Linked DNA regions of Homo sapiens: region 2 is linked to region 1. Evidence: fine-mapped expression QTL. A gene starts in region 1. The other region holds a variant in brackets. All regions are shown on one strand. Distances are between the middles of the regions.

What was found.
Region 2: its variant is fine-mapped to the expression of CEP295 in stomach (GTEx, PIP 0.94).

The regions. Positions count from the first base shown.
Region 1 is chr11:93,651,787-93,669,427 of GRCh38, forward strand. It overlaps CEP295 (centrosomal protein 295), which reads left to right and starts at 9,896. Exons shown (of 30, transcript NM_033395.2): 1 at 9,896-9,988; 2 at 14,896-15,029; 3 at 15,821-16,021; 4 at 17,022-17,146. The coding sequence starts at 14,922. RefSeq lists a silencer at 9,660-9,729 and an enhancer at 9,890-10,019.
Region 2 is chr11:93,673,212-93,687,392 of GRCh38, forward strand. It overlaps CEP295 (centrosomal protein 295), which reads left to right. Exons shown (of 30, transcript NM_033395.2): 6 at 2,360-2,455; 7 at 6,201-6,341; 8 at 10,348-10,531; 9 at 10,753-10,917. Among named protein-coding and RNA genes, the nearest start is that of CEP295, 19 kb to the left of the region's middle. The variant A/G (reference allele first, on the strand shown) is at 8,710.

The DNA of each region.
Region 1 (17,641 bases):
TTTCAAGACTTCCTCCTTAACCTATCTACCACTCCCCACAAACAGCAATACAAATCCCAACTCTGCCACGTATTAGCTGCTTGCTTTCGAGCAATGTATTTAACCTTCACAAGCCTATTCCTTCACCCGTAAAATAATGATTTGAAAAATCTGCCTCAGAAGATTGCTGTGTGGGTCAAGGAAGACAATGTAGGTAAAGTGCCTAGCACAGTGCCTGGCACGTAACAGGTACTGAATACCAGGCTGTTGTTACCTGGGTGTGCTACCCTCGTGCACTAACACATTTCGAGAGGATGACAATGGGGGACCCTGCTCTTGCCAGTAGCAATGCTGCTGCCTTTGCTTTTTCCTATTTCTGGTGATGCTGTTCTCCTCTTGTCTGATGCAGGGGAATTTGTGAGAATAGGAAAAGAAAAAATTTCTGAGTCTTCTCACTCGCCCACAAATATTCCAAAATTTGGCTAATCCGCCCCCTAGTGGCAGACATTATAATTTCTGTCACTTTTTTTCCAACTGGAATTGCAAGAAAATACCCATAAAGGATTCATTTGAGATATTTGCCGCATCTCCTACTACCGGCCTTGTCACTACCATGTAAAGGCAGGACAGTGCCTAAACTGGCCCATTGCTTGCTTCCTTATGTTAAGGCTTTGAATGTCTTTCTTAAAATGCAAACATGCGCCTAGGAAGAGTAGTCTAACTGAATCCTTCAGCCTGAACTAGCTAGCCTGAAGGACGAGATGCAGAGTAGATGAGGGTCAGGAGAGGCCATGAGAGGCTAGCCATAAAGGTGAGTCATCAAGGGGGCCTGTGGCTATCTCAGGGGTGAGGAGCAGAAGGCACAGGTGCCAAAAATGCTTTCCCTGCTCCCTCAAAAATCATAAATGTTTATCTAGGAGTCATACCTTAGAACAGAGATGGATGTCATAAAACTAGAACATAGCTTTTTTTTTTTTTTTTTTTGAGACAGGGTCTCAAAAAGTTGCCGTGCAGTGGCGTGATCATGGCTCACTTCAGCATCTATCTCCTGGGCTCCAGTGATCCTCCCGTCTCAGCCTCTTGAGTAATTGGGACCACAGGCACATGCCACCACACCCAGCTAATTTTTTTTTTATTGTTAGTAGAGATAAGGTTTCACTATGTTGCCCAGGCGGGTCTCAAACTCCTGAGCTCAAGTGATCTGCCTGCCTTGGCTTCCCAAAGTGCTGGGATTACAGATGTGAGCCACTATGCCTGGCCTGGAACCTACCGTTCTTGAAGGAAAGGAATGCAAAATTTCCTAGCCCAAAAGGTGACTCTTTTTAACATGTTAGTATGCATTTGTGCTGGCAAAAAGACCCTTAGATTTTGAGTCAAAAGACCAGGGATTGAGTGCTCCTCTTGTGGTTGACAAGATGAGTAATAACAGGCAAGCTATTTAGCCTTTCTGAGCGTGAATTTTGTCATCTGTAGAATGGGCATGATGGTGGTAATTCTGCTCTCAGTGAAATGTGTATGGTTTTGTTTGTTATTTAGGTCTTCCTGAGATTGGCGTGCCGTGACTAGGGTTGAAGGTGAAAGAGGGACATTTACTGAAAAGGTACACACCTCTTCTGACCTGGGCCTGGCGGCTTGATGACATTAGATTGTGAAGCCCTTAGCTCTTTAATAAAGCTGAGGAGAGAATGTGCAGGATGCATAGATCCCTATCAGAGAGCTTGGGGAAAATCCCAAAAGTGAAATCCCAATAGTGAAGTCTTAGGAGCAAAGATGGGAGGGTAGAGAAAAAGAAAGTGGGGGAAAAGGCAGGGGCAGAATAGAAGCTTGAAACTTGCTAAGTATTACTGGAGATGAGATTTCAAAGAAGTAGGATAAGGGCTTTATCTAACGGAGAAAGGTCAACATGAGCCCAAATGTGGAACCCACAGACATGGTGTGAGGGAGATGGAACATGCTGGAGGGGCCTCCGGGAGCTCCAGAAAAGGTGATTCTGTAATGGGTGGTGCATGACTGAAATGGTGATAAGACCATATGCAACAGATCTGACTTCAGAATTGGGTCATCAGGTGCCACTCAATAGGAACAAGTCAAGTAAAAGAGGGTACACCAGGCACAAAGTTTAATCACACCAGACATATAGTGGAAAAGGCCTCCCTACTAGCCAATGAATTAAAGCCCAGAATTATTTTTTAAGCTAGATCATACTACAATAATCAGGACATGGATCTGAAAAACAGTCTATTATTTGTGAGTACATACATTCTTTCATTTGTTCATCAGATATTTATTGAGGATTACCTATTGTTCTAGCCCCGTAGAGATGCGGTTTCCTTCAAGGTAGAAGGTGTGATTAAAGTTTAGCAGAGAAAGTTCAGGATACCTACAGATCACAGCTGGCTAGAAGAGAAACACATATAGCATAGACCATTGTTCACACAAGAACTCAGTAAATATTTATTGAGTGATATGTTTTGGCTCTGCATCCCCACCCAAATCTCACCTCGAATTGTAATCCCCACATGTTGAGGGAGGGACCTGCAATTCCCATGTGTCGAAGGAGGGACGTGACTGGATCATGGGGGTGGTTTTTCCCATGCTGTGCTCATGATAGTGAGTGAGTTATGGTTTTATAAATGTTTGGAAGTTCCTCCTTCGTGCTTCTCTCTCTCTTCTGCTACCCATGTAAGACTTGCCTGCTTCCCCTTCCACCATGATTATAAGTTTCCTGAGGTCTCCCCAGCCATGCAGACTGTGAATCAATTAAACCTCTTTTCCTTATAAATTACCCCATCTTGGGTATTTCTTAAGAGCAGTGCAAAAAAAGGAATAATACATTGAGTGATTGGGGTGGAGTCAAATACAATGGGGTGAGCAGAAAGGAATGGGAAGGGTATGGACTTTACTGTTAGAAATGTCTGGGTAAAAACCCCAGCTCTGTCACTTGAGCCATGTAATACCAGGCTACTTAAGGACTCAATAAAATGGTAGACATTAGAATTTGTAAGACAACATTTGCCTTGAAAGATGGGTAGCTTTTAGATTTGTGGCTATGAAGGGAAGGGCATTTTTATCTCACTACTTATCAGTGCATACTTAGCTTGATGCTCTCAGGAATCATCCTTTCCATAGACAAGCTCACATTTTAAGCCAGCAGCACAGCAGGCATACTAGGAAGATGTGGGCAACACTTGGAGTCACACAACAGTAATTCCACACTAATAAGAAGCAACTATTCCACCTACTTTGCCCATGCAAAATATTATGATTTTATACTGCGAAATCCTGAGTTGGGAGTCATATGAACAAACGGGGTTGTTTCAAGTACTTCACAATCCTTGCACTAGCTTCAAGAGGAAGTGTTAGGACTTAACTGTGTTCCTCAGGAAACCATATGTTGAAATCTCAAGCCCCAACACCTCTGCATGTGACTTTGTTTGGAAATAGGATCATTGCAGATGTAATTAAAGATGAGATTATACTAGAGTAGAGTGGGCCCCAAACCTAGTATGACTGGTGTCCTTGGAAAAAGGGGAAATTTGGACACATACACACACACACACATACACACACACACACAAACACACACAAACACACCCACACACAGGGAGAACGCCATCTGAAGCTGAAGGCAGATATTGGGATGACGCATCTGCAAGTCAAGGAACTACCAGAAGCTAGGAGGTTTAGAACAGACCCTTCCCTAGAATCTTCAGAGGGAATATGGCCCTGCCAACAGATACTTTGATCTCATACTTCTAGCCTCAAGAATTGTGAGATAATTAACATCTGTTGTTTAAGTTACTCAGTTTGCAGGACTTTGTTATGGCAGCCATAGCAAACTATTAAAGGAAGTCTTTACAGTTTTTAAGAAAGGAGAGAGAGAATGTTTGGGGTAGAAACAAGATACCCTGCCCAAGGAGGGAAAAGCAAAAATGCAAGGAGACAGCTGAAGAAAACGACCCCCAGAGATGAGTGTCTGAGGCTGGATCAGATGTGTAGATAATACTGAGAGGGAGGAAGTTGAAGAGACAAAATTTCCTTTGAACAACAATACATCATAATGACTCTAAGAGATAAGATCTGTACATAGGAGACTTATACTGAAGGGTCTGCTATAATGCAATGAGAAAACTAAGCTTGTGGTTAGGAAATATCACCAATTCACCTGTTGATTCCAAAATGTCCAGTATAGCATCGAGCTTATTTACCTCATATAGGGCTTTGTGTAGAACAGTGTTTCTCAAACTTTCATGTGTATACACATTGCCTGCAGATCTAGTTAAAACACAGATTCTGGTTCAGCAGGTTTGGGGAGAAGCCTCAGAGTCTGCATTCCTAACAAGCTCCCAGGTGATGCCAACACTGCTGGTCCTTGGACCACCCTTTGGGTAGCAAGGGTGTAGGTTACAGTTATGTTCACAGGTAAATGAAAATAATTTTGGACAAAGGGAATGCTAAGTAAACAGAACTGATTGATGTTCTTGTTCTCTGTAAGCTGGATCAGTTCAAGTGAGTCAAATGGCAGTAACAAAGAAATGGTGGTACGGCAGTCACCTGCCCTGAGTCTGGACTGGTGGCTAAATCATAGGAGGATCTTTTATAGTTATTTATATGCTTCTATGTAAGATATTTAGAAATTTTCTATTTGATCTTTACGACGCAAAATTTTAAAATGTAATCTTTACAACTGCTCTATGAGATAGGGTAGGTATTAATATTTCTGGCACACATGGTGCATAATAAATGTTTGGTATTTTTATCCCTATTTTATAAATAGAGATTGAGCTTTGGAGGTTAACTGTTGGTCAAGTAGATGTTCAAACACACATCTTCAAAACTCTTCCCCACCCTACCCAAGCCCCCTCAATGGCTATGTACTTTTTTGGGTTGTATATGATTTCCTTTTTTTTTCTTTTTAACTAGACTTCTCTCTCTCTCTTTAAGCATGAAACTCAAACTCTACCCACTTATGTCTTAACAGGTATTCGTATTTTTGATACACATCATATTAGCAATGTGCTGGGAAAGATTTAAAAGATGGAACAGAGCCAGTGAATTTCCCTATTATCTCCTCTTGCTTCTTACTGTCTTTAAGCAAGTGGCTCAATTCCTTGGCTCAACTCCTACCCTATACCTCTAAAAAATATTTACAGCTTTTAAAAGTTTTTCTCAGCCTATCCTTCCTCTCCTGCCTGGCACTCTTAATTTCACTCCTGGTAGTAGCTCTAAATTATTCTACCGAGACACCGTCACTTGTTAAGCTCCTGTGGTGTGTATATTAGGGAGAAAGAGGGCAGTTAGCATATGGTCAGATGGAAGTTCTTTGATTACTTTTGTTCTTGCAGAGATCCCCCTTTTTTCTGGTGTTTATACATAAGAATTATTGAGGGTTCCTCCCCACTTAAATATCATTTGCTTATATTGGATGTGGATAAAGATGAAACAGTGAAACCGTTGCCATCAGAGAAACATCTTAAACTGTTCAAATCTTAAATGGCTTCAGTTGCATTTTGAAGAGTGGCAGCATTATAAACCAGTGACACTAATGTCATTACTGCTGAGGACAATTCTTCCTCTTGATCACTGGTTACTGAGGTTCATTCTCAATAGGTTAACAATACTAGAAACTAAATACACATACTTCTCCCTAGGCCTAAACTCTACAAAAAGACTGAATTAAAAATCAAACCAGGCCGGGTGTGGTGGCTCATGCCTGTAATCACAGCACTTTGGGAGGCCAAGGTGGGAGGATCACTTGAGTCCAGGAGTTGAAACCAACATGGGCAACAAAGCAATAGCCCATCTCTACTAAAAAAGAAAAAAAAAAATCAAATCCAAAACACCAATAAACACATTTAAGAGTTTGGGTTTTTTTCCCTCTCTTGTATTCTAAAATGAATGTATTAAAATTAAAGCCAAAAAAGGTAACATTTATTGCACATGTTGTGCCAGACATTGTTTCAAGAGCTTTAAACCTCACAAGAACCTGAGTACTTTCACTACATCTCTTTAAGAGATGAGGAAACAGACTTTTAAAGAAGTCCAGTAACTAGCTCAAAGTCACAGAGTTAGCCAGAAATTTAAATCCATTTGGAAGAAATCTATGTAACATTTTTATTTTTCAGACAGGGTCTCACTCAGTTGCCCAAAGTTTACTTACTGCAGTGGCACAATCATAGCTCACTGCAGCCTTGACCTCCTGGGCTCAAGCTATCCTCCCACCTCAGTCTCCCAAGTAGCTAGGACTACAGGTGCACACCACCATACCTGGCTAATTTTTAAATATTTTTGTAGAGATTAAGTCTCCCTATGTTTCCCAGGTTGGTCTCAAACTCCTGGGCTCAAGCAATCCTCCTGCCTCGGCCTTCCAAAGTGCTGGGATTATAGGTGTGAGCCACTGTGCTCAGCCAAGATCTTAAACATTATTCTATACTATCTCCCAAGATGTCCAGATGTGTTTGTCTATGAGAATTTAAATAAAAATCTACAGCCCTTTTTAATTTGCAAAAAAATAGAAATTCCCATTCAAAGCAGCTTCAGTAGAAGACTGAATGGCTGCTACCAGTTTGCTGCAGAATAGGCAGGCATATTGACCTCAGGTATGGCTAGATCCAGGGACTTGAACACTATCCAAATTCTCTCTCTGCGCTCCTTGCTGTCACACTCATTCTTTCAGACCAGCTTGTGGGGGACCACCTGGGAAAGCTCCAGGTTTACATCCTAACATGAGCCCAGAGAGGAAAATATTTGTCTCTGCTGTCTCCAGTGCCAATTCCTGTGAAAGACTCTGATTGCCCCAATTAGGTAACATACCTGTACCTCGGTTGGTCACAATGGCAATGGAAACAAGAACTGCGATTTGTCCAGTCTGGGTCACATGCCTACCCCGGTAGCCTAGAGGTCTGGGTCTGTACCAGAGGAGGAGAGAAAGGTGTTCGACAGAAAAATAAAATAAATAACTGCTAAACTACCTAGTATGTGTATACCCCTCTAGAGTTTACAAAGTGCTCTCATATGATTCATGCCTTTTGAGTCTCACAACCATCCTATAGAGAGGCGACATGAAGTATTACTAAGAAACGTGGTGGATTAAGATGGCTACAAATTCTTTGTCACTGCCTCCATTGAGAGATGGAGTTCATTTCCCTTTCACTTGAATCTGGCCTGGCTCCATGTTACTTAACCAATAAAATGTGATACAACTTACTACAACTCGTTCTCTGCCTCACCTTTTAAAGGACTTGCAGCTTCCACTTTATTCCTCTGCGAATGCTCACTCTTAAGATGCTCCCTCTCCAAACTAGCCACAATAGAGTGAGATGTCCAATCTACATGGACTGGTCATGAGTGGACACTCCAGTCAACAGTTCCAGCTGAGCTCTCAGCTGCCAGCCAACGTCAGCTGCCAGCCATAGTAAGTGACCCATGTTGGACATTCCAGGGTGGTTCGGTTGGCAGCAATTGATCGCCAAAACAGAAATGAAGACTCATTGATTTGAGGTCCCACGGCTAGAAAGTATCTGTGGTAATGCTAAGCCAGATGCTCTGACTCTAAGCCCACTTGGGCTTTGATTCCTCACTGCCTTCTATTAAAAACAGAACAAGTCTCGATTCAAAATCTCCAAGTGTAGAATTTCTGCCAAGGATGCAGGTTGAGGAAGTGAAGCATGTAATTTGGTCATTTATTCAGCTTTGTTCATTTATGCCAGGCAACTGAACAAAGTGCACTCCTGGTTCTCAAGAAACTTAGAGTGTAATCAATAGAGAGCCCTCTAAACAGCTCATTTCAATAAGAACTCCTAAGTGCCATGGGGCAGCATGTGCAGGAACCCATGTCCAGGCACTAAACCTAGCCCAAGGGATGAAATAATATGCACATGTTTTATCGGGTATGGAAGAGTATCTCCGTGCCTGTATGGAGGATGCTGAAAAAATGTTTAAAATGAATACAAATATTCTTCAAGATAAATGTGACAGGAAATGGGGAGAGAGGCTGAGAAGAACCCTAATATTTGGGAAGGAAACGTGAATTCTAGTCCTGGTTCACCCTTGACTGAAATGTGCCCTTGGCCAAGTTGCTGAATCTCTCTGTAACTCAGTATCCTGATCTGTAAATCTGAGGTGGAATCACACTATTTCTTCCTGTACCTTCCTTCCTCCTACTCCATCCCTTTAAGTTTTGGTGTTCCTCGGAGTTTGGTTCTTTGCTCATTGCTCTTCTCACTCTGCAAATTCTCCCTAAGTGATCTCATCCATTCCGCTAGCGTTTGTTATTACTCATGTAACAAGGAAATCCCTTTATGCTTAGCCTAGTTCTTTCTGTGGGCTATCTACCGATGTATTCATCTGCTTACAGTACATCACTGGATGTTCTACAGGCACATGAAGTTCAATATACACAGAGCTTGGCTCATCACCCTACCCACTTAACTGCCATTTCTGATTTCTCCCTTTACAATCAAGAATCAACACTGCTACCCAAGCTAGTGGCCTATGAAATCAACTTCACTTTCCCTTTTCTCTCAATCTCACATGCAATTGTTTGTCAAGTACTGCTAATTTTGTGTCCTAAGTTTCTGAAATGCATCCCTTTGTCTAGATATCTCATAAACAGCTCAAATTCAAAATATTCAAAGCTTAACTTATTACTTCTCCCTCCTGGTTCTCTTCATGTGTGTTCCAGGAGGATGTTATCACTATCTACCCAGGTGCTAGGTATCTGGGACTTGGGCATCACCCTTGTTTTCTCCTCTTGTGCCTCCCATAACCAGGTAACCACCAATTCCTGATGTTTGGCTTCCTATTCAATCTACTCACCTCTCTCCATTCTCATTGCTATTATCTTTCACTTTCTGTAGTAGTATACGGCCTTCTGTCTTCACTCTCTCTGACCTTTTCCCCACTGTGCAGCCAGATCTGATCGTGTCAGCAACTTCCCATCCCCACCCCCCATTTTTAATCCTTTGATTCCTGATGTTTAACCCCCATGACCCAGACTGCAAAATCTAGTATAGGCATCATAATCCATCCAGAGTAACATAATGTACTCGGCACATAACAGATACTCAATAGGTATTAACCTGTGCTCACCGCCTGATTATTGGTTATTTACAGCAGATAAATCCGTGAGGTGCTCTCCGTGCGCTGTACCTCTGGAGGCACAGGGTAACATACGGCTCATTGTTGTTATGAGCTGGAGGCCTTAAATGAAAGCTATAAGACGTTAACTGCGCATAATAGTACCAATGAATTCCGTAGTCAGTACAGAAAAGGATGCATATCCCAAGATATCTTCATGATGGGGCCTTAAAACAAAAGTCACCCTCATGGCTCTGCACTTTTTTTTTTTTTTTTTAGACAGGCTTTGGCTCTGTCGCCCAGGCTGGAGTGCAGTACTGGCGGGATCTCGGCTCACTGCAACCTCCACCTCCTGGGTTCAAGCGATTCTCCTGCCTCAGCCTCCCGAGTAGCTGGGATTACAGGCGCCCACCACCACGCACGGCTAATTTTTGCTGTTGTCGTATTTTTTGTAAAGATGAGGTTTCACCATGTTTTTAAAAGGACTTGGTCTTGAACTCATAACCAAAAATACATAACCTCGAACTCTTGGGCTCAAGTGATCCTCCCGCCTTGGCCTCCCAAAGTGCTGGGATTACAGGCGCGAGCCACCGAGCGCGGCCCATACGGGAAAACGTCAAAGCCTGACAGGTGTGACAAATAATGGGCCCCTAGGCAGGCTGGGGCTGGCGCGTGCCTGTGCGCGTGCGCGGGGCGCGGGGTTTTTAACACCGCGCAGCCTTCCCGGCGGCCCCCGAGGAAGGCGGGACAGGGCCTATTCCCGCGGTTTGGTCCGGCCATTGGCGGGCGGTTTGAATGACGGAAGTGACGGCGGCTCGGCGATGGCTCTCCCGCAGGCGCAGAAACGGCTGCTGGGCAGCTGATGGGCAGGAGCTTACCAGGCTGGCTTGCTCTGAGCTGCGGTTACTGTGTCCAGGCCCCGGGTTCTCAGGTGAGTCAGGGATGCACTGGCTTCCCAGTCGCCCCGTAGGAGCATGACTCCCCGAGGCCCAAGAGCTGGGATTGTATTCCGGAGGAATGGGATCCCAGGAAGGCGCCTTGTTGCGAACGCAGGTACGGCTCGCGTTTCTCAGGCTCCGCAGGCCGTGGGCCCTGCCCGCGGTCGGGCTGGCGGCTGTAAGGAGTGTCCGGACCAGACCCGGTAACTCAGTGCGAGAGGCTTTGCGCGCTCTCCTGGGGTCGGGTCGCGCGAGCTTCCCACGCAGCCTCCCCTGTCGCGGAGCTTCCGTGTCGGGGGAGGGGCGCTTCCCCCAGATCACCCGCGGACATGGCCTGCCACCTGGTAGCTGTTAAAAGAGCCTTGCCTGGATCGTTTCATGCAAAGAGCACGCTCTCTTTTGGTGTCTGCCACCTTAATCTCACAGTTATTCAATCCTGTCACAAACTCAACTTTTAAAACAATGGTGAACTTTTGAGTCCTTAATACTTAGAGTGTATTTGAAGACTTCACGCTAAGTCACATAGACGTCAGAACAAACCTTTTGGGGTAGATATTATTATTCCCTTTATACAGTTTAAGAAAACGAAACCAAAGTGACTTCAGTGACTTGGCCAGTATCTTCCTGCTAATAAGTGGCAGTGTTGGGTCTTGAACCCAGATCTTCCAAGTTTAGTGTTAATTTTGTGATTACTATGTACCAGGAGCCATTTAATCCTCAGGACGAAATCTTGCAAGATAAGTAGTATAATCTTCAATATTGGATAGTAATAAAATGTAGAATTTAAAAATCCATATTACTAAGAATAAATAATTAATAAACAAGTAAATGGGGCAGCAGGGAAAACTTCCTTACAGCAGGATTCCGATTGATAATTGTAGAAGGAATAATGGAAATAGAAAATACTATTTGGTAAACACCACAGTAGTTGTTTCAGACAACAGTCATCAATGGATACTAACGTCAATGGGCAAAAGTATGATGAAAAGCATATTTCTGTAGCCTCTACTCTGTCTTCATGAGATATTTATAAAGGAAAAGTAGTAACTACAGAGGAGAAACCTGGTGGACATCATCTTAACCAAGTGACCAAAATTCAGCATCATTTACCTCTTGATAACAATGCACTGAAAAGGTGCCTAATCAATTCTGTGGTGTTCTTGCCAAAAATACATAACCTCAGTTTAATCACATAAGATTAGACAAATCTAAATGGAGGGACATTCAACAAAGTACTTGGCCAGTATTTTCAAAAATGACAGGGTCTTGAAAAGACAGACTGAGAAACTGTCCCAGATTAAGGGGGACATGACAACTTTGACATGAGAATGTAACTCACATATCTTAATCTCCTGCATTCTGAAATCTCCATTTGCACTGAGGCCATGCTTCCCATGGGCTGCTCCTAGCCACTGACAGTGGCAGGCCTGTTCCTGAGAATCTCCCCACGGGTTCTTGCTGAACATTTCTTATACTGCATGGCTGTCTAAGAGGGGTCTACCCATTGTTACTTCCCTCCATTCAGTGTTAGACTTACACTGAAGTCTGAGGCGCTTGTAACTTTTATCAGCTCCCTCCCATTTTCCCTCACACACGCATTTCTCCTAATAAAATATTTGCAGGTTTACTCCCATCTTAGCGTCTGCTTTTTAGATGACACACAGTTACACAGCAACAAATGCAATGTGTTATATCCTTGGATTGGCTTCTGGTCCAGAAAATAGACATTAGTGTGATAATTGACAAAAATTGAATACTGCCTGTAGATTAGTAAAAAATATTGTGTCAGTGTTAATATTCAGATTTTGATCATTGTACCATGGTTATGTACAAGACGTTGACATTTGGAGAAGCTGGGGAAAGGGCAAATGGGAATTCTAAGCCTGAAATTTCCAAATAAAAAGTTTAAAAAATTTAAAAATTATACACAAGAAGAAACAGTTATTCTATCGCATTTTAGGAGCTTAAAAATAATAAATGTTTATATGTTTTTCAATAATCCTCTGAGATGAAGTAATGGATACCTAAAATTTGAAATATTAGGATTTTTTTCCTCTTAAAGTATAAGAATAAAACACAAATCTAGGTATACCATTTGAGGAATTTTTACATATGTATACACTTGTCTAAACCATCATACAGATCAAAATATATAAATTTTCAGTACCCCAGCAAGCTTCTTTGTGCCATCTCCGAGTCAGTAACTTCCAGTAAGGTAACTTTATTTTTACCTCTCATGGATTAGTTCTGCTTGTTCTTGAACTTTATATAAATCAATTTTGTTGTACTTTTTTGTGTCTGGCTTTTTAAAAATTCAGCAATATTATGTCTATGAGATTCATCAGGAATTAGTCTTAATTATTTAAATATGAGGGAATTTCTTAGACCTTCAGACAAAATAATAAAGATACATTGTGAAGATTAATCTTGTTCTTTTTTCTTCTTTGTTAAATTTTCTGTTTTTTAAATTCTCACTCTCAAAAAACAACAGCTTAAATAAAATTTTCGCCACTCCACATATTTTTGTGTGTTGGAAAGTTAGGAGCCATTTGGAATAAGGAAACCAGATTCTTCCCTTGGCTCCGCCACTAGATGTTGTCACTCAGGGAAAGTCCTTTAACCCAAGAGGCCTTGTTTCTTCATGTATAGCATGAAAAATATAATCAGTACTTTAGTTACCATTACCAAAGCCGTGTGAATATTAGATGAGTAGGATGCATTAAAAGATTTTTTTAATGCCAGCAGTTAGTCCTTTTTGGTGTTAGAGTCTTATTGAAGGTTGTGATGATTGTGTATAGCTCTGTAGCACTTCACATAAATTAACTCATTGAGTCATTCATTCAGTCAACACACTTACTGAAGTAACTACCTATGGGCGAGACACTGTTTTCAGGCTATGGACATAAAATGGTGAATAAGTCCATTCTGCCCTGATGAGCTTACATTCTGATGGAGAAGTCACTGGAAAGGTATTAGTCCCTGTTAGGTAATCCCACAGTCTCCTAGCCCCTATTCTGTTTACACCTGGTTGAAAACATTGTGCATCCATAGTATGTGAAATATTACCTGGTAGTTATTTATTAAATTTAATTGAATATTAAAATTTTTATTAAAAAACCCATAGCCATTGTCCTTCAATTGTTAGGAATCTAACTAGAAAGAGCAAACTGTAATTGATGAAAAACTACAGGAGGTAATACCAAGACAACATAAAATTAGTCCCCATCTGAATGTATAGGTAATAATGTATTAGAGTTGGGCAAATCAGGAGTGGGAAATTGCAACAGGAATTATCAGAGGACAGCTTCGTAGAGGAAGGAGGGCTTAAGCCAGCTTTAGAAAGATGTAAATATTCAGTAACTGAGATTGTCTGCCTGGTCATTGTGAGGGAGACCTGAGAAATGTTGATTGTCTCAGATAAAATGCTCATGTACTCATGTAAAGTGTCTAATTTTTTGGAAATGGCAGTAATAGGAGCCAGTTAATATCAGAATTACCTGAGGAGGGTATTCAAATTATAGAACTATAGATTCTTATATTTATTCCATTTCTTTTTGCCTCGTTCCCCCAAATAGGAGCATGTTATAATCTAGGGAGGAGAGAGAGAACACAGTGTGAACGGTAGCAACAGAAGAATAGATCTGGGCCGGGCGTGGTGGCTCACACCTTTAATCCCAGCAACTGGGGAGGCTGAGGCAGGTGGATCACTTGAGGTCAGGAGTTCGAGGCCAGTCTGGCCAACATGGTGAACCCCTGTCTCTACTAAAAATGCAAAAATTAGCTGGGTGTGATGGCGCATGCCTGTAATCCCAGCTACTCAGGAGGCTGAGGCAGGAGAATCACTTGAACTCAGGAGACGGAGGTTGTGGTAAGCCAAGATTGTGTCATTGCACTCCAACCTGGGCGACAGAACGAGACTCCATCTCAAAAAAAAGAAGAATAGATCTGGAAAACTAAACGCTTGATACAGCCGAGCAAGTCATTCATATAAAAATTACGTCACTATAATTATTGAAGAATTGTTTACTGTAGATTATAGAACATGGGATTGATGTGATTTCATGAGGTAACAATGACACTTGGTGATCAAGTTATATGCAGTAGACTGGGAGTTGAATCTAGGAACAAAGAACCCTTGAAATTACAGCAACCTTGCTAGTTATGAACAAGTTATGAAGGTTCTAAAGTGTCAGATTATAGTTTTGAAAACATTTATTCTATGCTAACATCTTTTTAGGTCTTTGTGCTTTTTCACATTTAAGCTCAGTAAACTCTGGAAATGCTAACCAGGAATAAGTCAGGTCCAGATACTCGAGGTAGACAATCTGCTATAAACAGGAGAAAACTTTTCTGAGTAATTCTGATTCAGTCTTCATTTCCACTTTCCCACCCTTCTGAGTATCACTGATCTAAGTGTGAATTTATAATTGCTATTTGTAAATAAGTTGGACTTCGTTTACTCAAATTTTCCTTGCATGTATATAACCCTTTAAATATCAAAAGTATTAACACGAATTTTAAAAATTTTCTGAGCAGGCATGGTGGCTCATGCCTGTAATCCCAGCACTTTGGAAAGCTGAGGTAGGTGGATCACTTGAGGCCAAGAGTTCGAGACCAGCCTGGCCAACATGGTGAAACCCCATCTCTACTAAAAATACATAAGTTAGCTGGGCGTGGTGGCATGCACCTGTAATCCCAGCTACCCTGGAGGCTGAGGCATGAGAATCGCTTGAACACGGGAAGCAGAGGTTACAGTAAGCTGAGATCGCACCACTGCCCTCCAGCCTGGGTGACAGAGCAAGACTCTGTCTCAAAAAAAAACAAACAAAATTATTCTAATCTTTGCTGCCCTATTTTAATGTTACATTATTTTTATAGACATTTTCCTTTTTGAATTCAGAACTGTCATACATAAAGTACACAGAAATGAAGAGAAAAGTCGTGAATACTCACAAGCTGAGATTGAGTCCTAATGAGGAAGCCTTCATTTTGAAGGAAGATTATGAAAGAAGGCGAAAACTAAGATTGCTACAGGTATGACTTATTTGTAATAAAGTTTTAAATTCCTTTCTTCCTCAAATTACTTGTATTCTTTTACATTAGAGTGTTCTAAATGTTGTATTTAAAAACCTCTTCTGGGTATACGAGAGCCCTGGTTATTTGGTATTAACTAGTTTTGGAACACTTGAAAAATAGGCTGAGATGGTTAAGTACATTGTAGAAGAGTTGGAAGATAGGTATTATTTGACTCGAATATTGAAAATAGCTCTTTATCTTTTTTAAAAATGGTCTGTAATTGGTAACAGGAAGCTTAGATGACTTTGAAGAATGCTAATTGGAAAGATTATTAGCTGCTGAAACAAATTTATCAGGAAATTGCAGATAACCCTTTTCTAGAAGTGTTTTTAAAGTAAGTTTTTGTGAAGTATGTTTCAGGCACCATTCTGTCTAGAATCAGAAATGATGTACAACAGAAATGGAGTTCTCATCTGGCTCTGTCTGTACTCTGGGCTATAGATTTTGTTGAATCATATTTATCGCTTTAGCTTTTATAGGTTATTAGAGTGATAATGGCAGTCCTTTTGGGAGTGGGCGCTGAATAAAAGCTATCAGTTTGGAGACATTAGATATAGTCTTGAGATTTTTACTTTTTGTACATTCACTCAGATTTTCTGCTTTAAATAGTCTTTATCTAATACAAGATGAGTATCAAAGAGAGTTGACAGACTTAAGAGAATTCATTTGAGTTCCTCTTTCCAAATAGCTTTTCAAAAAAGTTTAAGTAAACCTCCTTTCATATAACCTGTTAAATATGCATTCTTTAGGTTCGAGAACAAGAAAGAGATATCGCCTTACAGATAAGAGAAGACATAAAACAGAGGAGAAATCAACAATTTACACGTTTGGCAGAGGAGCTAAGGGCAGAATGGGAAGAATCACAAACTCAGAAAATACAGAACTTGGAAAAACTGTATTTGGCAAGTTTAAGAAGTATGGGAGAGGGACATCGACAGGCCAAAGAAAATGTGAGTGAGATCTTATTTGACTACCCTGTTGTGGCAGTAATATTAGTAAAAAGTAAATTATAGTTGTTGAATGCTTTTCTGATAACATTTTCATGCATTGAATTTCTTTGGGGCAGCTTGAACTTTTTTATAAATTTAATGTAATTTGTGAATAATAGGCTCATTTCTTACTAAGAGTTATTTCAAGTAAAATCCATGTCAAATAAAATTGGTCTTCCTATGATGTTCAAGTTAGCATTATTCTCTTCCAGTACTCCTCTATCTGGGGAAATAATAATCTTCTGAATCAGAAGTTGTTGTCCATCTCAGGCATTTTTTGACAGATTTGGTGGGGTGAATTCAACCCCCCAACAAACATTTTTTGATGACTTTCAGAAAGTCACAGTAAGTCTGCCCCATTATTTTGATTTATTGTGATTTATGATGTGGAAATACTACAGTCCCAGAATCAGTCACATACAGTAAACAAGCTAGTTACAAAGAAGGTAAATCTTTGATAACAACTAGTGAGAAAGAAAATATCTTAAGACTGTGGCAATCTGTTTCATGGTCCTTGGTTTTAGTCTGTGTTTTTAGTAATAGCCGTAAGTTCTGACTCAGGTTTTTGTGGTTTTATGCATGCCACATTAAGTTTGTGCCTAATGCAATGTTTCCCAAACCTCTGTTATTTGAATACCATGTTCACAATTTTTGCCCTGACTGGGAAACTACCCATATCACTATATATTTTACGTACTTTAACCATGTCCTAAGTAGTTCGATATCCTATTTATATTTTTGTAATAATGTTAATTGATTGCATTAACTTTACATTAAAATGTTTGTGTTTGTCCCCCCTAATATGGCATATCATCAGTGGTACTGTTGTCATGCTCTGGGAAACACTGCTATAGTATGTAGAAAGAAGATGACAAAATTGATAAATCACTTCTGATATCATATGAGACACATTTCTATTATTCTTGTTTAACATGACATTTTAAGTAATATATATTTTTAGGAACCTGATTTGGATGCTTTGGCACAGCGGGCAGCAGAAAGGAAAAGAAAAGCAGATTTGAGGCATAAAGAAGCCTTGAAAGTACAGAAAAATCAAAAAGAAATATTACTGAAACAAAAAACCTGGTAAAGTAATAATTTTTACTATAATCTCAACTGAAACTAACATGGTTGAAAGTAGAGGATACATAGGATACTGTGTAAGCAAATATTAAATAAACATAGTAGCATATTCATTGCATTTGTTAAACTTGATTTAAAAATAATGTTGGGGACAGGGAATGATTTGCTTAGGTGAACATAGTAACTAATGAGCTTTCTTTTCTAGTTGTAGTTTGAGTTGAGTTTAGCAGCAGTTACTAAGTTTCTGAAAAAATATATGGCTACTTCAGAATGCATGTCAACCAATGTCTGTTTCCGATGTAAACATGAAATAAAAATTGATGTGATTAAGAACATTAAAAGAGGTTGTAGACTCTGGAAGTCATTAGTATTTTTTGCATGTTGTAAAAATTAAAGGGCCATTCACAGGAAACGTGAGTGAAGCAAAGTAAAAAATTAAGGGCCCTGTTACTAGTTAGCAACAGCCATTTTTAACAACATTTCTGTTTTTTTTTTTTT
Region 2 (14,181 bases), 20 kb after region 1:
GGCTGAGTTGGGAGGATTCCTTGAGCCCAGGAGTTCAAGACCAGCCTGGGCAACATAGCAAGACCCTGTCTCAAATATATATATGTATATGTGTATATGTATGCTAGTTAATGTTTTCATTAGTGGTCAGTTTAATCCTTTACCTAAATGATAAGACCCTGAATAAGGTCCTCTATTGTACATATCTGGATGTATATCCAGGTATTTGCCAATTAGTTATCTTCTGACTGGTCTAGGTAATTCTCAACTTTGGCTGTACATTTATCACCTGTGCAGCTTTTTTTTTATTTTTTATTTTTTGAGACAGAATCTTATTCTGTCGCCCAGGCTGGAGGGCAGTGGTGCAGTCTCGGCTCCCTGCAACCTCTGCCTCCTGGGTTCAAGCGATTCTCCTGCCTCAGCCTCCCAAGTAGCTGGGATTACAAGTGTGTGCCACCATGCCTGGCTAATTTTTGATTTTTAGTAGAGAAGGGGTTTCTCCATGTTGGTCAGGCTGGTCTCAAACTCCTGACATCAAGTGATCTGCCTGCCTTGGCCTCCCAAAGTGCTAGGATTACAGGTGTGAGCCACAACGCCTGGCCGCAGCTTTTTAACAATGCTAATACTGGGCTCTGTTCCATGGATTCTGATTTAATTCGTTTGGTGTGGGGCCAAGACACGAGAAGTTCTTAAAAACTACTCAGATAATTCTGCTCACATCAGACTGTACATTTTTACTTGGATTTTCTTAATCCCCCCTTCTTTTTTTTTTTTCTTTTTGAGACAGATTCTTGCTCTGTCGCCCAGGTTGGAGTGCAGTGGCACAATCTTGGCTCATTTTGCATCATTGCAACCTCCGACCCCTAGGTTCAAGCAGTTATCTTGCCTCAGCCTCCCTAGCAGCAGGGATTACAGGTGTGTGCTACCATGCCCATCTAATTTTTGTATTTTTAGTAGAAATGGAGTTTTACCATGTTGGCTAGGCTGGTCTCAAACTCCTGACCTCAAGTGATCCACCTGCCTTGGCCTCCCAAAGTGCTGAGATTACAGGCATGAGCCACCGCGCCCAGCCCCTTCTTGTCCTTTATATTGTTTCTGTTCACTTGAGTCCTCCTCATCATTCCACACTCATATATGTTATAGCTAAAACTTTGGTTAATTCTCAACCTATTCTTATTTAAACTTTTCTCCCTCCCAACCTGTGTTGCATTTGTGATGTCATTGAATTAGCCAGGCATGGTGGTACATGCTTGTAGTCCTAGCTATGGTAGGCCGAAGCGTAAGGATCGCTTGAGCTCAGGAGTTACAGTGCAGAGTACAATGCCACTGTACTCTGGCCTTGTCAACAGGCCTTAAAAAAATTAAAAGTGCTTTTTATACATTAATTGATTCTTACAGTAATTGTCACAATGATCATATGGTATAGCGATAGCTATAAACCCACTTTTCTTGAGAAAGCCGAGGGACAGAAAAGTTGAGGGACTTTGCTAAGTTTTCACTACTGGGATATAATACAGAAGACATCCAGCAGAAGTGTTAGCATTTCTTTGTGGATATTTTTTTCATCAAATTATCTGTAAAATGCATGGTTTATTATTTAATTTATGTGTAATCGTTAGAACTTCTAGTTAGAACTGTTACTGTGAGCTCCTTGAAGCCAGGGGCCATTATTTTATTTTACTTCTCGTTGTCGTTCACAGTGCCTTGTGTAATGTTTAACACATAGTAGGCACTTAATATTCTTTGTCAGTTTAGTTAATTAATTTAACATCAGTATGTGATAGGTTGTGATGGACTGAATCTGCCTTTACTACAAAATACAGGAAAGGGAAGGGGGAAGGTAGTTTACTTTCATTCTTCTGAGAGTTGTTTTGTTCTGGAGTAAGTGTAATTTAAATATATTGGCAAGTGTTTCAGGACCAAAATTCAAAATACGTCATTAAACATTGAGAAAATAAGACTAATGTGAACTACAGTAGAATTTTTGTGATTAGATATGGAAGAGGACATAGTAGTGCATGTTGTTGTCTTATAAATATAATGAAGTGCTTTTCATTTCATTTGATATGGCCTGTAAGCCCTTCTATATTCAGGAGATTTAAAGATGAAATTTCTCTATAAATAACTTAAAAATTGAGATGAATAAAACACATTTAGTTAGCGACACCTTGAAGATGATTTGAAATACTGATGAATCTGGTACTTTTATTAAAATTTGAAGTAATTTAACTCAAAAAATTTGATTTCATTATGAGCAGATATTTAGCATGTTTTGGATGCGGAGAACTCATTAAAATACAAAATTACTTTTTTTGCATTGGATTCAGCTTTAAGTGAAAATTAATGCTTTTAACCTATTTTTTTATGTTCTCTTTTCCAGAACATCGAAGTAAAAAGAATTTCTGCAGTCAAAACCAATAGTTCTACCTACCATCATCTTCACACTTTTGTGAATAGAGAGACAGACACAAAACGGGTGATTGACTTATTGTTTCTTCATGCCCTCGCTTTATTATTTCTGTGTGCATTGAATTGAATTATATCTTAGTTATATGTATGGTGTTCCCAGATTTCAAAATTTGGACAATTGATAATAATAATCAAAACCTTTTAAATGCTTTGAATTTTCATGTCAGGCATATGATGGTTTAATATGAATTAAAGAAACTAGTTGGCTATTTAAATGGTTATTTTAAAATAGCAGATTTTAAAGCTTTTTTTATCATAAAATATTACATGCTATTTGTGGAAAATTTGGAACTGTACATATAAGTGTAAACTATTGGGAAAACACCAATTCTGTCACCAAAGTGGAATATAGTTAATGTTTTAATAAATTCATTATAACCTTTATTTAAATATAAACATATACACACACTTTTCAAAACATGATTTTTAGTGGCCACTTAATATTTCATGGTAGCATTTATTTAACCATTATTTTATTTTTTGCTTCTGTAAGTAATGTAAGCATTATCTTGCACGTTTTTATCCACATCTCTGATTATATATAAATTCCTGAAAGAGAAAGTATTGGCTCCAAACTGTGTAACATTTGATACAGATCATTAAATTGCTTTTTAAAAGCATCAGCAACATAGGAGAATGACCACCTTACCATAGCCTTTTCTGCACTGAATATTATGTTTTAAAAATTATTGCCAGTCTTAAGAGTAACAAATGATATATTGTTATTATAATTGCTATTTCTCTGTGTCAGTGGGGGTTTTAATTTTTTTCATGTTGAATATATTTCTCTACTAGGAAAATAAATTTTATAGCATTCCTGTGGCATTTAGAATGCAACAAATACACATTTTGGTTGACTGCTTAATAGCAGGTATTAAAATATTCAGTTAAGAACTAAAATGAATATCATCACAGAATGAACTTCTAAGATGCAAGAGTAAATCTGAGATTTATTTAAAATTGTAAAGTATTATTACAGTTTCGATATTATGATGTAGGAACAATAACTTCAATTTGTTGCTAACTGCTTTACTGTTTACTGCATTTTTGTGATTTGAAAAGATGCTACCTTTTAACTAAGATTGATGATGAATTTTTTTTTACCTAACTCTGTCAGCATAGGGTGCTGCTGATGGTATTAAATTAATATCCATAAGCTTTCTTTTTTGATAGTAACCAGAAGGCCTACCTCCTTTTCAATTTTTGGACTTAAAAATTAGATCAGTAGTTATAATGATAAAGGGTTAGAAAAAAGTTCGGGACCACAAACAAATTTTGTTTCTAACAGTTTTATGAAAGTATTCCCACAAACTAAAGCTTTGTGTACTGAATGAAGATATGATTTCTGAATATTTTCAGAAATGGGTTTATTACTGAACACATTTTTATTCGAATATTTTCTTTTATTTGCTGCTTTACTGTATCACTTAGGAAAAGTCTGTCCTTAAACTTTGGATTTAAAATGTGATGACCAATGTGCTTGGCTTTCAAGATAAAATTACCTCTGAATTTTCATCTGCACTCAACTTATATCACATGCACAATAATTTTAGCATCTTCCCTGGAGGAGTACGATATGATCTTTACAGCAGGTATCATATAAAAAATATTTGCACGCTTGGCATATATGTTTGGGTATTTTTCTTTAGCAGCTTTCTGCAAATAAACTTTCATTTGTTCAGTCAGCCTTTTTAGCACATAAGAGCTGCTATTGTGTGTGTGTGTGTTTTTAATATCCTGATAAAGTAATTCCAAAATCTTTTATATGTCATAATATATATCTTTGGCTGAAGAAGATTTATGAAAGTGGCCTGCTGTAGTCCTACTTACAGCCAGTAATTCTCTACATTTTGTTTTGCTACATTCGCTACCTCTACACACAACTGAACAAAACATCATACGCTTAAAAGTCCTACATTACATATTCATGGGCTTCATCATGTCTATTCTTTGTCAGTGACAGTTACGTAGCATTTTTTTCAAATGAACTTTGCATTCTGAAAATATTCAGTCAGATTAACTGTATTGTTTGTGGTGAGACCCAGAAATGTCTGCAGAAAAGTGAAGCTGAATCAGTTAAATTCATCATCAATTTTCCATGCTCTATTATATCTAAAAAGATTTCTGTCCAAATATCTGATGTACAAGATTCAGAAATGTATTTAATAATAGCATTTATCATTCATATATCTTTGATCTTCACATACTGAAAATAGAATCTAACATTATTTCAACCAGATTTATGGTTATGTTTTTAATTGCATTGACACAAATCTATAGGGGATTGTCTTCCTAAAGCTGTATTATAAATCTTGTTTTGAAGTATGATCAATAAGAACAAAATTTGTTTGTGGTCCCTAACTTTTTCTCTAACCCTTTATTCATATCCTTTATATGCTTTTTTATATCTGGACTGATATTTATCATTCATGTTGTATGCTATTTTGAAATTTTTCCTTTCTTTAAAATTTTGGTTTACCAAAATTGACATACTGCTTTTAATTTATCTTCAAGAGATGTGAAGAATTCATAAACAACTTTTTTCTTGAAAACCTCATGGCTGAAATGGATTGAAATATTGTTCTCAGAGGTTATATTATTTAATATCATACATATTGATATACTAAATACTCCTACAGATTATAATTTTGATTTAATCTAACTTTTTTTGTCTTACCTGATGTTATTTAGTTTTGCATGAATATTTAGTGGCTCAAAGCGGTTATATTCTTGATAAATTTGTTTGGCCAGTGTACTCTTTGTTAATTTAATAACTGTCAATCTCTCTACCTATTTATCTCACCATGTGAGAATTTTTAATAATCTTACACTTGAAGTTAACAGCTTTTTTGGTCATCATTAATTGTTTCAACTGGCTGGCAGAATTTCAACATACAAAAGACAGAAAAAGACTTTTACTGCTGGTTACATTTAGAATATTTACCTATACTTGAAAGTGAATGTTCAGATAATAAAAGTAAATCCAGGCTGGATGTGGTAGCTTACGCCTGTAATCTCAGCGCTTTGGGAGGCCGAGATGGGAGGATTGCTTGAGACCAGCCTGGTCAACATAGCAAGACCCATCTCTTTAAAAAAAAAAGTAAATCCAGACTCTGTGCCTCTTTCTCTTTTTTGTGTTATTTATGTTAATGAGATTTGTGGGTATTTACCTTTCAATACTGTCATTTTAATGAAGTTTCCTTTTTTTTATTTTTGAGATGGAGTCTTGTTCTGTCACCCAGGCTGGAGTGCAGTGGCACAGTCTTAGTTTACTGGAACTTCCGCCTCCCGGGCTCAAGTGATTTTCCTGTCTCAGCCTCACGAGTAGCTGGGATTATAGGTGCCCGCCACCATGCCTGGCTAATTTTTATATTTTTAGTAAAGACAGAGTTTCACCGTGTTGGACAGGCTGACCTCAGGTGATCCACCCACCTCGGCCTCCCAAAGTGCTGGAATTACAGGCATGCGCCACCACGCCCAGCAAGAGATTTCTTTGCTTACAAAGTGATGGATAAATGTGTTTGGAGGAGTATAACCTCATCTGGTTTAAAATGAGTAACTCGTAAAGCTTTATACTAACAATTTGATCCCTTTCATAGGTACATGCCGTTGATAATTGTGGACATTTTAAAATATAACTCTTCTTATATTTTATATATGTAGAAAACATGATTTTAAGGTTGTTTTGTTTTTTAGTTACTGCTTGTCTCACACTTTAAAAATTTTGCCTACAATTTTTGATTGACTGCTAGCCAGATGCTCGTTTGGCTGCTGAAGAGGAAGCTAAACGATTGGAAGAACTACAAAAACAGGCAGCACAAGAGAGAATGGAACGGTTTGAAAAGGCACATGTACGGGGATTCCAAGCAATGAAGAAGATCCATTTGGCTCAAGTAAGACTTATATTCTACCCATGACCATTACTCATGGACTTACTAATAGCATTGCAGGACTGATTAGTGAATGAGCTCAAAGAAAGGTAGGAAGGGTGGGTGTTCAATATAGTCTCTGATTCATATGATTTCAAGTTTCCCAACTTTCTTTGCCCTCCAATTTCAAGTTCTGATTGGGTTAAGCTATTCTCCCAGTGTATTGCTATTCTAAAAATTTTACTAATGAATTTATTAAAAGTTTAATATTTTAATATGTCCAAAAACAGCCTGAGGAAAAAAATCACTTTCCTGATTATTTCAATAGCATATGTGCTCTATAAATTTGAGGATTCAGTTCATTAAATTTGTATTGAGCAAAGCACTTGTTGGCTTTGCAGAATGTTGTTTCAAAAATAAAGTCATGATCCTTGCTACCGGAGCTTTTAAAAAGTGACAGTCAATAGGCCAGGCATGGTGGCTCATGCCTGTAATCCCAGCACTCTGGGAGGCCAAGGCGAGCAGATCGCATAGGCCCGGGAGTTTAAGACCAGCTTGGAAAACATGGAGAAACCACGTCTCTACTTAAAACAGAAAAATTAGCCAGGCATGGTGGTGTGCGGCTGTAGTCCCAGCTACTCAGGAGGCCAAGGTGGGAGGATCACCTGAGCCCGGGACAAGGAGGTTGCGTTGAGCTGAAATCACACCATACCACTGCACGCCAGCCTGGGCCACAGAGCGAGACCCTGTCTCAAAAAAAATTAAATAAAAAGTGACTGTCAAGTCCAGTCGAGGTAGCTCAGGCCTGTCTCAGGCCTGTCATCCCAACACTTTGGGAGGCCAAAGTGAGCAGATGGCTTGAGCCCAAGAGTTCAAGACCAGGCTGGGCAACATGGTGAAACCCTGTCTTTACCAAAATTCCAAAAATTAGCCAGGCGTGGTGGCCTGGGACTACAGAGTCAATACAGTCAGTCCCAGTTTGGGACTGTGTTGTGGCCTGGGACCTCATTTCCCGAGAAGGCTGAGGTAGGAGGATTGCTTGAGCCTGGCAGGCAGAAGCTGTCATGAGCCGAGATTGCACTATTGCACTCCACCCTGGTGACAGAGTGAGATTCTGTCAATCAATCAATAAATAGTGACTGTCATCAATATGTAAAATATTGTAATGAAAGCTGGCTTTATAGTTTTAGCTTAACTTCTGTCATGCTTATTGTTCATTTAGTGCTTAGTCTTAAAATATAGCATAAAAATGATTCATCTTATTAGAAGTCTGATTTTATTTTCTGAATTTGACTAATGCATTTGGATTTTTTAAATACCCATCTTAGGAATGAGTTTTTAAGTACTTCTTAAAAATGCATTGGAAATTAAATTTTCTTATGAAAGGTTATTTTTATAGTTTGAACTAAATCATGAGCTTCTCCCTTAAATTTTTAGCTTTCATAAACTAGGAGTGAATTATGACTAAAATAACTGAATGTCTGAATTATTATCAGTAATTCTCCCCATCTAAGGTTTAAACCTATAGTAAAACAGACACAAAAAGCAGTCATAAATTGAACAGATTCTTCCATAAAAGCAGTAATGTTTAGTAGTTAAGCAAGTGGGCTTCACAGTCATTCTGCCAGGATTTATCTGTCTTCTTCACCACTCAGCTGTTTGATCTCAGGCAGATTAGTTAACCTCTCTAAGTTCTGTTTCATGTGTTGTTTTTTTTTTTTTTTTTGAGACGGAGTCTCACTCTGTCGCCCAGGCTGGAGTGCAGTGCTGGGATCTTGGCTCACTGCAACCTTCACCTCCCGGATTCTAGCAATTCTCCTGCCTCAGCCTCCTAAGTAGCTGGGACTACAGGCTCGCGTCACCACACCCAGCTAATTTTTTTTTTTTTTTTTTTTTTTTTTTTTTGTGACAGAGTCTTGCTCTATCACTCAGGCGGGAGTGCAATGGCGTGATCTTGGCTCACTGCAACCTCCACCTCCTGGGTTCAAATGACTCTCCTGCCTTGGCCTCCCAAGTAGCTGGGACTACAGGCACATACCACCACGCTTGGCTAATTTTTATATTTTTAGTAGAGACAGGGTTTCACCACGTTAGCCAGGATAGTCTCGATCTCCTGACCTCATGATCCGCCTGCCTCAGCCTCCCAAATTGCTGGGATTACAGGCGTGAGCCACCATGCCCAGCCCAAGTTTTTTGTATTTTTAGTAGAGACGGGGTTTCACCATGTTGGCCAGGCTGGAACTCCTGACCTCAAACAATCTGCCTGCCTCGACCTCCCAAAGTGCTGGGATTACAGGTGTGGGCCACCAAGCCTGGCTGTTTTTTGTTTTTGTTTTTTTTTTTTAACCTCCCCTGCCACACCTCTCCTGATCATCTGTTTTGTGAGGATTCA[A/G]TGAGTTTTCCAAAGCCCTTGGAAATGTGCCTGGAATTTCATAAGCTCAGTAAATGTTAGTGGTAGTGGTCATTGTTATAAATAATCCAAAAGGAATAATATACTAGCTTGCAGTGAGCTAGAATAGTACACTTACTCAAACAACTTTAGATAATTAGAATCTTAGTATAAATGAAATAAGTTCATTTATAATTTTCCTTTTCAGGACATGGCAAAAAAAATTCATCCTCAAAAGACAAAATAGTTAAAACTTTACAAAAGAATAAGTAATGTATATATGTTATCACTTTTTAATTTATTTTTATTTATTTTTTATTTTTTGAGACAGTGTCTCACTCTGTTGCCCAGGGTAGAGTTCAGTGGCGTGATCTTGGCTCACTGCAACCTCTGCCTCCTGGGTTCAAGCAATTCTCCCGCCCCAGCCTCCCGAGTAGCTGGCATTTCAGGCGCATGCCGTCACGCCCTGCTACTCTTTGTATTTTTAGTAGAGACGGGATTTCGCCATATTGGCCAGGCTGGCCTCGAACTCCTGACCTCAGGTGATCTGCCTGCCTTGGCCTCCCAAAGTGCTGGGATTACAGGTGTGAGCCACTGTGCCTGGCCCATTACCATTTTTTTAATGCAGGATTTCTCTACGTTATAGTAGACTTAATGTTCCTTATATAAGAAGGTTGTTAAAAAAAAAAACCGTGCAATCTCACTGCTAATAGAGGATTTCATTTTTCCTGTCTGAACCTTTTTGCTGCATACTGTATTGTGGCCTGGGACCTTATTTCCTTCTAGTGTCTATATTAACTAATATTTGACTTCTACCTGCTTCTCCAGTTTTATCTTCCTTCCCTAATCATCCTTGCCCTCCATGCCCTAGCTATAATGAACAGTGTGCTATTTTCTGAATATCCCGTGCCTTCATCTCCATACTGTTGTGCTGCAGTTTTTTTCTTACATGTACTCATTCTCTTTCAGCCACTTTTGTCTGGCTAAATCCTTATCCCATCCCAAGGAACAAGAAGTCTTGCCTTGTTCTCCCTCCTTACCTTCTACCACCAAAATTCCATTAGATAACCTCATTAAAACACTGATTAAACTTTCATATTAGCCATACTCTTTAAGCTTAAAGAAATACATTCAGATCTCCTTTAATAATGGAAATTCATAAGAGTGTGAGGTAACAAGAAATATTCTATGTTAAGCCACAGTCACCCTGGGTCTTGGTGCTTACCTGAGATAGGTATATGGAGAACTGGAACAAAGTACATCACAGGAGCCATGGCAACTTATATAGACATTAACTTCATGACTTTCCTCAGAAAGGAAAACTGTAGCTGGCAGACACTTTTTGCAGCTTTATGGCCTAACCAGTACCACTCTTTCATTGTACTTACTAACATAACACTACTTATTTGTTGGTCTTACTACTAGGGTAGGGTTGAGATTGTGTCCCTAGCACTTAATGTGGTATCTGGTATTCAGCAAATAATTGTTGAATGAATAAATGTCTGTCTTTTGGCTGAACAAATAATAGAGGAGAGGAGAGAAGCTTAGACCCTGATCCTCATTTCCCCTACCTGCAACATTGTTAATATTACCATACAAAGTTTGTGACTCAGTTTTTGTTAATTCTCTTTATTCTTGAAGAATCAGGAGAAACTAATGAAAGAACTCAAACAGCTACAGCAAGAGGACCTGGCACGTAGGAGACAGACTGTAGCACAAATGCCACCACAACTAGTTGAACTTCCATACAAACGCAGTGAAATGAAAGAAGACTGGCAGAGAGAATTGGAATTTGCCTTTGAAGATATGTACAATGCAGACAGGAGTAAGATATTTTCAGTAGGGCTTTCAATAGTGATTTTATACGTTTTGGTGGGAAAATATGTTTGTAATGATAAAGCAGTTTTTATCTTGAAATGAGTTCTCTGTTTGAAGGAGGCCCCCCATATTTTAGATTGAGACATTACCGTGGCCTTTGCATTTTTGTGATCCAGTTATTTTTAATCATTTTGGAATGGAAACGTGTCTCTATTTTTCTTTTTTAAGAGGTGAAAGGGAATCTGATTCTGCACCTTGAACCAGAGCCCTTGCCCACTGTGACTAATCAGATCCAAGATGAAGAGCTGGACCTTTCAATGGAACAAGAAAATTTGGGTGCAGCTGAAGACCTTCCAGTGACAGAAGCTGAAATATGTTCTAGTGAAACAGATGGTAAAAACCCTTCTGAGCTAAATATTACAGTATTTCACAGAAAAAAAAAATGCTAACCATTAGCCAGCAGTTAGGAAAATCTGGTCTGATATAAGTGCAAGCAATGAGTAATACTGATGGGAGCAGTAGCTAAAGGATACAACGTTTTTATATTTCCATCATTGACGATCCTTTTTCATATGTGTAGGAGGAAAGTTTATTCAGACGTACAGATGATCTGAAGATTTTCAGGTTATTTGAGTTGGGTGCTCAATTCTGAATTCATTAGAAAGGTTGCATGGTAAACATATCTGATAGCAATAACTTAAGCATACCCTGAGAATGACCCTGTGTGGCATACACACCTGAATGTGTGTTCTGAGCTAGGGAATCTGGGAGTAGCCAACCTGGAGGTTCATTTCTTGTCTATGAGGAACATCTGAGCCCCTGTCCCATCCCGTGGAACATGAGCCATACAGAGGATCAAGGTGTCAAGTTTTGGGTTGAATGAAAGTTGTCAGGTGGAGATCGTTAGGAAAAGGGTACTAAGTGACAGTACTATTTAAACTGCATGCTTTTTGCAAGCGGTTGCAGTTCTTCTGTCCAGCCTGCTGCCACTGGACTCTCCCTTATGTGTATGCCCTCAGTGAAACCCCAAATCTCATTGGCTAGCTCTGGATCTCTTATTTGGCATCTTGAACCTGGTGCCATCCCCATTTGAGTGAGTAGAGGTTCAGCACGACAAAGATCAGCATAGACTTGTCAGATCATCAGAGATCCTACTGGTATTCAGTTATTTCTAGGTACTTCGTGTGTAATGATGGATAGCACAAATTTTGATCTCTCAAACATCTCTATCTCCAACATTCTGAACTTTTTTACTTGGCTGTCCCATAGTTAAAACTGCATGTCTAGCAATAAATTTATGATCTTCTCTTGCCTACTAAAACTGTCTCTACCTGTCTTTTCTATCTTAGTGAATGGTATCACAGTCTGCAGTTACCCAAGCCAGACCACTGGGAGTTACCTTTAATACTTTCCTTTTACCTGCATGTCTCCTTAAAGACCAAGTCCTCTTCATGGAATTCAGCTATTTTTGCCCCGTATCTACTGGTATTTCCTTTGTTTAAAACCACTGAGGCTTTCTTATCGTCTTCACCCTACACTGTGAACATAGCCTTTTGGGATTCCAACTTTATGTAGGCCTCCTATTATGTAGGCCTCCCATATCTACTGGTATTTCCTTTGTTTAAAACCACCCAGGCTTTCTTATCATCTTCACCCTACACCGTGAACGTAGCCTTTTGGGATTCCAACTTTATGTAGGCCTCCTATTAGACTCCTCAAGTGAGGGCTCTAGGCCTTATTCATGTCTCCTATGCCTACATTGTTGTCCAAACGGAAGCCTAAGGTTACTACCAGCAACTGGGGAAAAAAAAGCAGCAGCAGCTTAAGGTTACTGTGTTTTGACTTTGGCATAAGCTTAGCAGAAGATGGTTTCAGGGCTGACTTGCCTTCCCTCCAAGCTTTCCACTTAAATTTCATTTCTGTCCTCTGCAGAACCTTTTCTTTTCATGCCAGGTCAGCTGTGTCTTTGTTTGTTTGTTTGTTTGTTTGTTTTGAGATGGAGTCTTGCTCTGTTGCCCAGGCTGGAGTGCAGTGGCACGATCTTGGCTCACCACAACCTCCACCTCCCGGGTTCAAGTGATTCTCCTGTCTCAGCCTCCCAAGTAGCTGGGACTACAGCCACACACCACCATGCCTGGCTAATTTTTGTATTTTTAGCAGAGACGGGGTTTCACTATGTTGGCCAGGCTGGTCTCGAACTCCTGACCTTGTGACCCGCCCACCTCTGCCTCCCAAAGTGCTGGGATTACAGGCATGAGCCACCATGCCCGGCCAGCAGTGTCTTTAAAAAGATATTCTTACAGCCAGGTGCGGTGACTCATGCCTGTAATCCCAGCACTTTGGGAGGCCAAGGTGGGAGGATCATTTGAGTTCAGGAATTCAAGACCACCCTGGCCAACATGGTGAAACCCTGTCTCTACCAAAAATACAAAAATTAGCCGGGTGTAGTGGCGCTCACCTGTAATCCCAGCTACATGGGAGGCTGAGGCAGGATAATCGCTTGAACCTGGGAGACAAAGGCTGCAGTGAGCCGAAACCACACCACTGCACTCCAGCCTGGGCAACAAGAGTGAAACTCCATCTTAAAAAAAAAAAAGATATTTTTACTCTTTCATGCAGCTTTTTCAGTTATTTTCATTGGGAGTATCAATATCTAGTTTGTCACAATGGAAGTCTTGCCCAATCTAAAGGGACAGTTACACTTTAGCTCCTGCTGATCTCATTTGGTCTTATTGGCTTGGTGTTGCCAAGTTGTTTGTTTGTTTGTTTGAAGCTAGAAATCTCATTGTTTTTAAAAATCCTTACTTTTAAATATTGGCAATGAATTTACTTCTTAAAAATGAGTGGGTTGTGGACTAATGGTAAATGAAAGAAGCCAGGCAGAAAATAATACCTAAATGTGTGATTCCATGTTTATATGAAGGTTTTAAAAAAACAGGCAAAACTAATCTGTGATCTTGGGGTTAAAGTAGGGGCTGTTTTTAGGGGTGTATTGACTGGGAAGGGACATGAAGGAACCTTAGTCCTGGTAATGTTCCACATGATCTGAAAGGTGGTACATTGACATATGTGAAATTCAGTAAGCTATACACTTAGGTTTTTGTGCACCTTGTTCTTTGTGAATTATAACTCAATTGGAATTTTTTTTAATATAAGTTAGACAAAACTACAATCTGCCTATTTTCAACCTCTTAAAGATATTCTTAAATTTTATTCCTTGACTAAGCCAGAGAAATATGTACTTGCATCACACTTTTGTCCTCTTAGAGAACTGTTCGTATTATACTGAGTTTTGGCATTAAACTATCAGCCCACATGGGAAAATGTTTGAAGAAATACTTGTGTTGTTTTTTTGTTTTTGTTTTTAACTGAAGGGATCTCTGTGTGAAGATGGGTGGGAGACATTTTTCCCAGATAGTGCCAAGAATAATTTGGGAGCAGTTGATTTGCTTTTATGGCTATGATGTTTTCCTCTGTAGCTCACTAAGAAATACAGAGCCATATTTGGGACCATTCTCTAGTGTAGACTATAGAACCTCACAGCATATATTTTCAATACTAATCTTACCAGCAAATTAATTAGAAGTTACACATTCATTTATCATTTAGCAAGCAAAATAAACATCTTCCTGATAAGTTTTTTAGGCTTGATATTTG